2 separate regions of the Homo sapiens genome follow, and region 1 is linked to region 2. Evidence: fine-mapped expression QTL. Tissue or cell type: blood mononuclear cells. Region 2 holds a variant in brackets; the other region holds the start of a gene. All regions are shown on one strand. Distances are from middle to middle.

Evidence for each region. PIP is the estimated chance that this variant, and not a neighbour inherited with it, causes the effect.
Region 1: NEO1 starts here. The variant in region 2 is fine-mapped to the expression of NEO1 in blood mononuclear cells (TOPMed, PIP 0.98).

The regions. Positions count from the first base shown.
Region 1 is chr15:73,049,994-73,055,143 of GRCh38, forward strand. NEO1 (neogenin 1) reads left to right here and starts at 2,470. Exons shown (of 29, transcript NM_002499.4): 1 at 2,470-2,812. The coding sequence starts at 2,683. RefSeq lists silencers at 1,590-1,639, 1,700-1,769, 1,860-2,179, 2,410-2,789.
Region 2 is chr15:72,965,289-72,970,438 of GRCh38, forward strand. No RefSeq gene overlaps it. Among named protein-coding and RNA genes, the nearest start is that of NEO1, 85 kb to the right of the region's middle. The variant C/T (reference allele first, on the strand shown) is at 2,278.

The sequences.
Region 1 (5,150 bases), 85 kb after region 2:
TGGCCACTCTGTTTTCTTTGCTCTAAAGTTTCTTTGTGCACTTATTCCTTGAACATGGGCCTCATGTTCTAACTTTACTTAGATGAAAAAACTGTTAATTTCACCAGTGGTTTAATATCTCTTCATAGATTGATAGTTTAGACAACATAAAAGTGTTGATTAGCAGTATACGTGCAGGCTGAAGTATTTGTTGAAAATCTTGTTGGGAGAATAAGAATGATAAAAGAGATGCCTAAGAAAATCTTTTCTCAGATATGCTTTACTAAACAAAGAACAGGTTAATTACTCAATGATGATTTTTAAAGGGCATGTCGACAGTGTCAGTGACTTTGAAACAAAGTAAAGGAGCTGAATTCAAGTGTGTGCCTGAGTTACTTAACTATCTTGAACTGATTTAGGATCTGTAGCTTTAATCTGGGGCTCCATCTACTAGTGGTTTAATAGAGTGGGTTTTATTAAAATTGTGATTTAATCAGAAGCCAGAAATATACAACTGTTTTAAACTTTTTGATATTAACCTGATATACACAGTGGGCTGATAAATTAGTGAGACAGTTCATATAAGTCATATATGAAAATCAGTCTGTTATTAGCCACAACTCATGTATTTTTCAAAACTTGGAGATAAATGTAAGCTTCATCTCAGAAGTCATATTACACGTTATAGGTTTAATATAATGAAATTTTTCCAGACTTAGAAAAGATATCAGGAAATTAACATTTGCAAGGCAATTTACAGTTTTCAAAGAGCTTTTCTCATTAATTATCTCAGAAAACTGAATAATGATGTGATTATTAAAGGTTAATTAAGCAAATACTTGTGAAGTAATTGGGAGGTAATCTATTTCTAATTTAACAGGTCAATCACGGGTATTTAGGAAATATTTTTGCTGGTTAACAACTCTAACCAAAACAAAAAGGTATTTAAATGGTTTCCCTAGTGAAAAACCATAAGCATGTGTTTCCTCTATTAAGTCAATTGTTTCAAAGAACTAGCATGAGAATTCCTAATTTCACCGTTTTGATGATTTAAGGTTTTATGAAGATTCTGAGCTCTTCCCTCCCGACGTTAATCCATGTCTTACATTGTTCATTTTGGCGCTTTAGAATAAAATATCTTTGGAAAGTAACTATGAGAAAGCACAGAGGGATATGTTAGTGAAATAGCCATTTTCTTGTGGGAAGCAAGACATTTCGGTTATCGACTACACAGAAGAGTGAATAAAACCCAACGCCTATCAACCACCAAACGTGACTCTGCTTGCATAATCATACAAATAAATTTTCTTTAAAAATTTTTCATGGGTGCAGTATATAAAATGATCAATAGTCTCATCAGCAGTGGAACTACAAACTGCTTTCTCCTAACTTTGTGTAGCCTGGGTGCTGCCTCACGATTACTAAGTGGTTTAAAATCATATCCCACTTGCTCCTTGGTTTATCAGCGAAAGACGTGATTCCCAGGTAGGAAAACGCCAAGTGTCCCGCAAAGGTACAGGTAAAACGTAGCAGTTACTGCGAGAAGACTGGCCCCGGGGAGTCCCAGGGCTCGGTCGGGGCCCCCGCACGAGCTGAGGAAGTGGACAGCGGGCACCTTTGTCTGTGCCTAGTTCCCTGGACCCGGGCCGAGCGATGCGGGTGGGGGCGCGGTTCGGGCGGGTCCCGGCGCTGCCCGGGGGAAGCGCGCGGCGACGGCGGCCCGGCTTGGGAGCCGGAGGTCAGCGGCTGCGCGGCCGGCCCCCTCCCACGGGAGCCGCGCCAGGGCCCAGCAAGAGTCGGGCGGGATCGCTATTGTTTTTGGCGAGCACATAAATCCCCGGGCCGACCCACTGCGCACCCAGGTTTCCTCCCGGAGGCCTTTCGGTTTCCTCTGAGGCCCTATATAGAGGCTCCAGGCCCGGACTGTGCAGAGGTGCGCGCCCACGCCGGCCTCCCGGACCAGCCTGAGCTCGGAGCGCCTCTCGCCCTCAGGTCTCTGCAGCCAGAGGCATCTGGGGAGGTGAGGGGGGAATTTGTCCCCGAGGCGAGGAGGAGGAGGCGGGGGCGCGCGGAGCCGAGGGGCTGCGGCGAGCGGGCGGGAGGAGCAGGAGGATCCGCTTCTCCGGGGTTTCCCTGACGCCAGCAGCAGCGCCCGGCGCGCGCGCCCCGCACCCGTCAGCGGCTCCGGGGAGAAGGGGGAGGGGAGCGGGCCCGCCACGGCCCGAGAGGCGGCAGCCGGGATTGGAGCGGGGGCGGGCCGCGCGCGGAGCCGAGGGGGTGCGGGCGAGGCGCGCGCGTGCGCGTGTGCGCGCCCGGGACTCCCGCCCCCCGCCCCCGCCCCCGCCCCCGCCGTCCGCGGTCTCCGCCCCCCTCGCGCTGGTGTGTGGAGCCGGAGTCGGCGGCGGGTGGCGGCGCCTGGAACCTGGAGACCGACCCACCGCCCCCCCCCCCCCGCCCCGGAATGTACTGACTCCCCTTCTTCGCTCTCCTCCCCTCCCCGCCCCCTTGCAGGAGGGAGGCGCCCTGGAGTCTCCCCTCCAGCGAGAGGGGCTGCGCGGGCCGGGCCGGGCCGGGCTGGGCTGGAGCAGCGGCGGCCGCGGGAGCCGAGCTTGCAGCGAGGGACCGGCTGAGGCGCGCGGGAGGGAAGGAGGCAAGGGCTCCGCGGCGCTGTCGCCGCCGCTGCCGCTCACTCTCGGGGAAGAGATGGCGGCGGAGCGGGGAGCCCGGCGACTCCTCAGCACCCCCTCCTTCTGGCTCTACTGCCTGCTGCTGCTCGGGCGCCGGGCGCCGGGCGCCGCGGCCGCCAGGAGCGGCTCCGCGCCGCAGTCCCCAGGTAAGCGGCGGGCGCGGGCCCGGGGGTTCGCGGGGGCGCGGCACCGGCTCAGGCGGCCGCGGCTGCGGTGTTTTTGTTTAGGATCCAGGAGGAAACGTGCAGGAACTTCTCTGCCTCGGCTCCGGTTGCCGAAGAGAAAGGGGATCGCGCGTGGTGGGGAGGAGAAGGGCGAGAGGGGGCGCCACCGGGGAAGGGGCGGCTGCCGGGGGGCAGGTCGGGGGCGCAGGGGTCTAGTTCCCAGCTTTGTACCTGGAGGCAGGTTCACCCCTCGCCTCTCTCCCCTCCCCCAGGCTCATCCCACTTGTAAGAGTGGGACATTCTTGTGCTCACACTAGCACCAGTAGAGGCCACTACACACCTCATTAAATAAACAATCAGACGGCCAATTCATTAATTTTCAGGAAAGGAAAGGGGAGGGGGCTTGAGCTCCTGGTTCCCTGGCCAGGGATTTCCCAGCTTCCGAAGTCTCGAGGAAGAGCTGGCTAGTCTCGAGGGACTCCTCGCGCGGGGATTGGAGCCCGAGTCTGCGGAAGAGCGGGGGTGTCAGAGGGGCACAATTGCCCGCTCACAACCCCTGGTGTTGATTTAACGATGAGGACGCCTTGGAGAGCGGCTCGGAGTGATCGTATCTGTTAGTGTTTCCGTTATGAAATGCCTCTTCTTTCCTGGGGATTACAACTATATTTACAGCCTATTAACCACTCTTAACCAAGGGAATTGTCTAAGCATCAGATTTTAGGTACTTGTACAATGTTTTCAGATGGCATTGTATAAACATTGAACCTCAAAAGCCATTTTCAGTTCTTTTTTGGAATATTATAGATTACTGAAACCACCTGCATTCCTATTAAGGGGACCAACGAACAAAAATGCCAAGCCTTCCGGGAAGGACCTTACGGTATTGTTGAGCAGGATACACTCAGCAGTTGAAAGGCAAATTAGCATGTAATCTGTTAAAATTATTTGACCAAGGTGGTGTACCATAAAACTTGACAAAACTTTCACTCGTGTGAGATATGATATTTTTACATTTGAAAGCAGTCTTACCGCTGAACCAGTACTTGTTTTTCCCTGATTTATATGAAATAATATTTAAAATCACACTGCAAGGTAACTTGACTGATAAACTTTTCATTTCCTTGCAGAGTGTGTATGTAGCTCATGGCTTTTGCCAATGTTAAAGAACAGCTTTAAACGTAAAGTACCACTCGGTATTCTCTAAACAGCTACGTAAACAATAGTGTTTTAATGTCAAATTAAACATCACTTATGTCATGATGTACCCTTATACATTCAGTCCGTATATGGTTTAGAACACATTTTGGTGCTGAAATGCAGGTTACTGATCCAACTGTCTCTTAGATGAGCAAGAGAAATATAACTATTTTGGAAAACAAGTTCCTGTTACTCATGATCTATTTTATATGGAAATTCATATGTAGTTCACCAAATTTCAAGTTTTTGTTTAAAGTTTTGCCGATAATTTTGTAAGTAACTAAAATGCTAGTAATTTTATTACTTAGGATAATAAAAATAATGCAAGCAGTCTCAGGAAGTGGTCTTAACATCTGTTTCAACATTAACTCAATTGACAGGTTTTTATTTTGCACAGATGAGGTGCAAGGCATATGCTCTCTGCCTTCATGGAGTTTACAGTCTGGTGTGTGGGTAGGAAAGATAGCCATCCATCTACTGATTATATAATTAAGTAATTGTGATAAGCACTACAAAGGAGAATAGGTTTTCACAAAGTGGGTACTGGAGTGACATAACCTAGTCTGGGTGTTAAGAGTGTCTCACAAGAACTGAGATCTGAGGAGTGGGTAGGAGTGGAGGTGGGGAGGCTCACAGGTAATTAGTCGTTTAATTGGGTCTAGAACATAGATCTCCTGATTCTCGGTCCAGAGTCCTTCCTGTAAACCGCTCTGCTTCATTACAAAAGCGAGAGGAATAACTGCAATAAGGAGGGGTTGGTCAGTTCTGCCATAAAACTGCGGAAGAGATCAAGAGACTGGAGAACTGAGTAAGCAGCAACTGGAACAAGCTGTCCGCAAATCAGATGTCCTTTGTCAGTAGTTTTATTTTTTTTATTTTTGTAGAGTGATAGACTTATAAATCTTTTTATAGGGGATTATAGTGAATAGATTGTAGGGAAGTGGACATGTTCAGTAGTAGAAGGTGGAGAAAAATAGAGATGTGGGACAATAGGATAAATGGAAAGTGTTTTTCCATCTGAGGTTATAGACATACGGAGGTGGAGGAAAAAGTAAGAAGTAAAGGACTGGTGATAGAAAATGGTCAGCAAGGGAGGAGGGTTGGAATTGAGTAGGAACATAAT
Region 2 (5,150 bases):
GAGATTACAGGTGTGAGCCACCATGCCCGGCCTAGGGGATCATTTTGAGCTCATTTTGTGATCTACTGAGTTTGAGTAGGATCTCCAGACATAGCATTCTAGGAAGCAAAGAGGAATACTGGGCATCAATTTGAGAGAGAGGAAGATCACAGTTATAGCTACAGACATCATCTACATAGAGAGAACACTTAAACATAAAACAGAATGAAAGCTGCAAAGGAAAAATTATCAGGCTGTCCCCTCTGCCTGGAATGCCCTTTCTTCTCATACCTGCTGCTGCAGGTATGCATTGTTGGATGACAACCCTAAAACTTAGTGGCTTTAAACAACAATTATTTTATAGTAAACTTTCATGGTTTTGAGGGTTGACTGGCCTTAGTAGGGTGCTTCTTGCTCAGAATGTCTCAAGTAACTATCACCAGTCAAGTTCTTACGGCTGAAATAATCTCGATCTCTCTTCCTCTCTTCTGTTTCTCCAGCATGGTGGCTCAGGAAGTCAGGGTAGCCAGACTTCTCACATGGAGGCTCCAAACACATGTCACAAGTGAGCTACCGCAAGGAGGAAGCTGTATCTCCTTTTATGACCTAGCCTCAGAAGTCAGGCAGCATTACTTCTGCCACATTCTACTCTTCAGAGAGGCAGTCATAAAAGCTCACTCAGGGTCAAGGGGTGGGGATATAGGCTCTACCTTTAGATGGGTAAGTGGAAAGTTTCTATAAGGTCATGTGGGACTGGAAATTTTTTTTATTCATTCTGGGAAAATCTGTCTTCTCTTCCAAAACTCAATACAAGAAACCATCCCAAATCCTCATGCTTGGTATAACTGCCACTCTTCAGTAGCCTTCCAGCATTTTACATCCTATGACAATGTTTAGCACTACAGGCATCGTCATCTGGTTATACATGTAGCCATCTGACTCAATTGTAAGCTTCTATAAGTCAAGACCCGGGTCTCGCTCTGTTTTGGTGGAGTGCAAAGTAGCAGGTAGATCTAGATTGTTGATTTAAATTTAATTCCAAAAATAGGAGAAGACTGTATGTGGAAGGTTAGTGAAAGCTGTATTTGAGACACAGGAAACGAAATAGGCCATGGAGACTTCGAGGGGAGTTTTTTCAAAACCAAACCATAATAGTCTTGGCAAAAATATTGTGGACATTTTCCTTACCTATGAAAACTGTCGCTGAATAAAATTAACCATATCTATGATAATTAGCAACAACAAAAACCCCTCCACAATTAATGCTTTGTAAGCAATAGCTACTGAACAAGTTTCTTATTTTCATAACAGGGAACTTCTGAATAGTCAAACCTTAGAAGAAATCCTAACCATAAAACAGAACCAAATTTGCAAGGATTGTTTTCCCATCCAAAACTTATGGTATAATAAGGCATACCATAATCAAATTTATCAATGATTAAATAATCTTAAAATAAGACTAAGATACCATTTTTTGCCTATCAAATTGGGAGAGCTTTTAAAAATATTCGTAAAATGGCCCAATGCCACCAAATGAACGTTCAGACATTTCTGACAGACGGGAGACTTGGCCAAGCCTTCTGGAAGATAAAGAGCTGTTAAGAGTTCGCTCCCTTTCATTCAGGAATTCCAGCACTAGAAATTTATTCTAAGAAAATAATCCTGGGTAGGGCAAAAATTCATATCGAGGATGCTCAACAAAGTATATGTTATGATAGCAAAATGCTGGAAACAACTAAATATTCAAATAGAGCTTGGTTAAATAGATTATGATTAATTCACTTGCTGAAACATTATGCAGCTATTTAAAAAATAACATTTTTGAAAACTCTTTTCTAGTACAAGAGCATGCTTACAAATTGATGTTCTCTGTAAATAAAACAGAATACAAACTGCACAAATTATAGGAAGTAGTATGATCCCAATTTTGTTTAAAAATTATATATGTATCGAGAAAAGACTAAAAGCACATTCCACAAAATGTTAACAGTAGTTATGTCAGAGTGATAGAATTATAGGACGTTTAAATTTTTTTCCCTATGCTTTTCTGACTTTTTTTTTTTTAACAATAAACATGTAATACTTTTGTAACCAAGGAGAAAAATGTATTTTTTGAAAAAACCCCAGGAATTGCTTCTGTGACTAGCTAGGTAATTAACAAAATGGAGGGAATGTTTTCCTGGAAAAAAAATTAAGTAATTTATGATGAAGTTCTTGGTATAGAATAACTCACACTTTCAAAAAAACCTAACATGCAAGAAAGCAGCCTGGACACAGACAGAAGCGCTATCTGTGAGG[C/T]GTGAAATTTCACACATGCCAAAGCCTGCACAGGTCCCACAGTGTATTTCCTTTAATGACACATGGGAACTTGTAAGTTCTCTGGCTGCAACTAAGACAGATTCTAATGGGCGGCAGGAGTGCTAAGCTGTGCCTTTCTGGTTCTACCCCACACTTCTCTACCCCACAACAAGGAACAAGTTGATTAACCTCTTTGAGCTCCTCAAGTCCCTCTCTGATATGGAAATCCACTAACATCAATAGGGCGCCTAAGGGCAAAAGTGGAAGAAAATAAACACTACAAATAAGATGGCTTTAGATAGAAGCCCAGGCCAGTGCAACAGGGACATTACACAGCTGTCTCCAACTGAACTGCCAACACCCTTGGCTGAGAGTCTGCCCAGGGTCTCGTTTCATACTCCTCTCATTGTAACACTGCTGTAGGTACCCAGGGAACAGCTGAGCTTTCTGCAGGCAAACAGAGCTGCCTGGGGCCCACCACTGCTCCTCTGATAAGACAGGCCTCTATTGTAGGAACTAATTACCACAATGCCATAAAGCTATCTGCCCTGGGCCGTGCATCAGAAGTGGTGACAGGCTCATAAAACCTGACTTCCCTGTGGATACCAAATGCCAGCCCTAAGGGAATATATGGTCAGTATTCAGGCCTTTCCGAGTTTGCAAATAAGCCAGATCCTAAAATCTTGTTTGTAAAGCATCATGAGGAACCTGAAGTACCAGAGAAACCATGTTCTAAATGTAGAACAGACATGGCACATAGTAGATGCTCAATAAATATTTGATGACCAGTGATGGCCAAGTGGAGGCCAAGGTCCAGTTCTAGCCCTTAGAAGCATTTGAACAAAATGTAGCTGCAAGCTGCATATTTTTCAATATAGGAAACAATTTTGTTTAATACCAGCAGCTAAAAGACGACTATCCACAGGATTAAATAATTGAATAATTAGTCTTAACTATATTTATCTAAATCTGTTTATGGAGAAGAAAGCAGATTTAACTAGAGGAAGATAAGAATGTAGACTGTAGGAAAGACTAAGGCAGAATCTAGGCAGTTTCAAGGAGTTTAAAGATGAGTGACACTACGTTATTATTTTACTTTTCATGTCCTTTATATAAACAGCACTTCCTTTTGGCTGGCAGCCAAGTTGGGCGTCATTTTACAATGATTACAAGGGAAAAGAGGAGAAATGATAACGAAGCCGTGTTAATCCATGCTGAAACAGTATGGAGTCACACGGTCCCCCTGTCAACACACCCAGGGAAGAGCCCAGCCAGGACCACCACACAAATCTAAGATTTAAGACCTGGTTGGGCCACTCACCAGCTCTGTGACTTGGGACCAGAAACATTCTCCCTGGAGCTTTAATCACCGAAGCATAAGAGTACTCATTCCATGAAGCCATTGGGAGGGTTAAATAAGATCATGCATTTAAGCACTCTTACACTGGCGCATAATACATGCTAGTTATGGTTATTATTAGAAATGTGTTCTAACCTTTTCCTCTAAGTTTCAGGAGGGTGGGACCCACGTGTTCATCTCATTTACTACTGTATACCCAACAGTAGTAAACCTGGCATGTGGCAGGGATTTAACAAATATTTGTAGGGGACAATCTGCTTGTTCTCATTTTTTTCCTCTGGTCAGTGACAAAGTGTTTTTCTGCATCTATCTCTGTCATTTTTTGGTCAAGTGGTTTATAATTATAGACATCATGACCCTTCATCCTTAAATATTTCACTGTGTCTCTAAAAAATAAGGACATTTTCTTTATAATGATATCATATCCAAAATTAATAATTTGTAAATATATAACACCTACACGGTACTCAAAGTTCTTCAATAATTCCCCAAAATATCCTATTACAGCTCATTTCCTTATGCCAGCTTTATTCCTTGACTGAATAAAGGATCAAAACTACATTCGGTGATTAGGTCTTTTAAGTCTCTTTTGATCTAAAAATAGCACCTCCACTCCTTTTTGCTTTCTATGACATTGACTTATTGAAGATACAGCTGTCCCTCAGTATCCATGGGTGATCAGTTCCAGGATGCCTGAGGATACCAAAATCTGAGGATGCTCAAGTCCCTTATATCAAATAGTGTAGTATTTGCATGTACCCTACACATATCCTCCCATATATGTACTTCAAATCATTTCCAGGTTACTTATAGTACTTAATACAATGTAAATGCTGTATAAATAGTTATTGTATTGCTTTTTAATTTGCATTATTGTTTTTATTTTTAGTATTTCTGATGCAGAGTTGGTGGAATCCACAGATACAGAAAACTGACCGTACTGTAGAATGTCCCACTTTTTTGATTTGCCTGATTGATTTACCACTGAGGTGATGCCTAACAAATTCCTGTCTCCCCTGTATTTCCCATGAGATGGAAATTAATTCTACAGTCTTGATGTGATTCAGGTAAAACCTTGTTATCCAGAAAACCTCATAGATGATGCTATGTACTTTAGCACTGTATCACACAAGGAGGGATGTCATGTCAAGTTGGCCTATTATCAGTGACACTGGGCTTGATCACTGGATTAAAATGGTGATGGCTTGCCTGATCCCTTTATTGCAAAGTTAAGGGTTTTCTCCTCTTGGAACTAGCAGATAAACTGGGGCGGTAGTTGATGCCCTGTAAATATGTAGCTCACCATTAACCTCTCACCAGCTGATCTTACAACCACTGATGGTCTTTGCCTGAATCAATCATCCCATAGGGGTTGCAGAATGGTGATTTTCCAATCCCATCATTCCTTCTTCACTTATTAGCGTGCACTCTTCTGTAAAAGAGCTTTCCTTCATCAACTGGGCTATTTAGTTACCCTGAAATATATAGCTCCTAGGGAAAAGACAGGTTATGT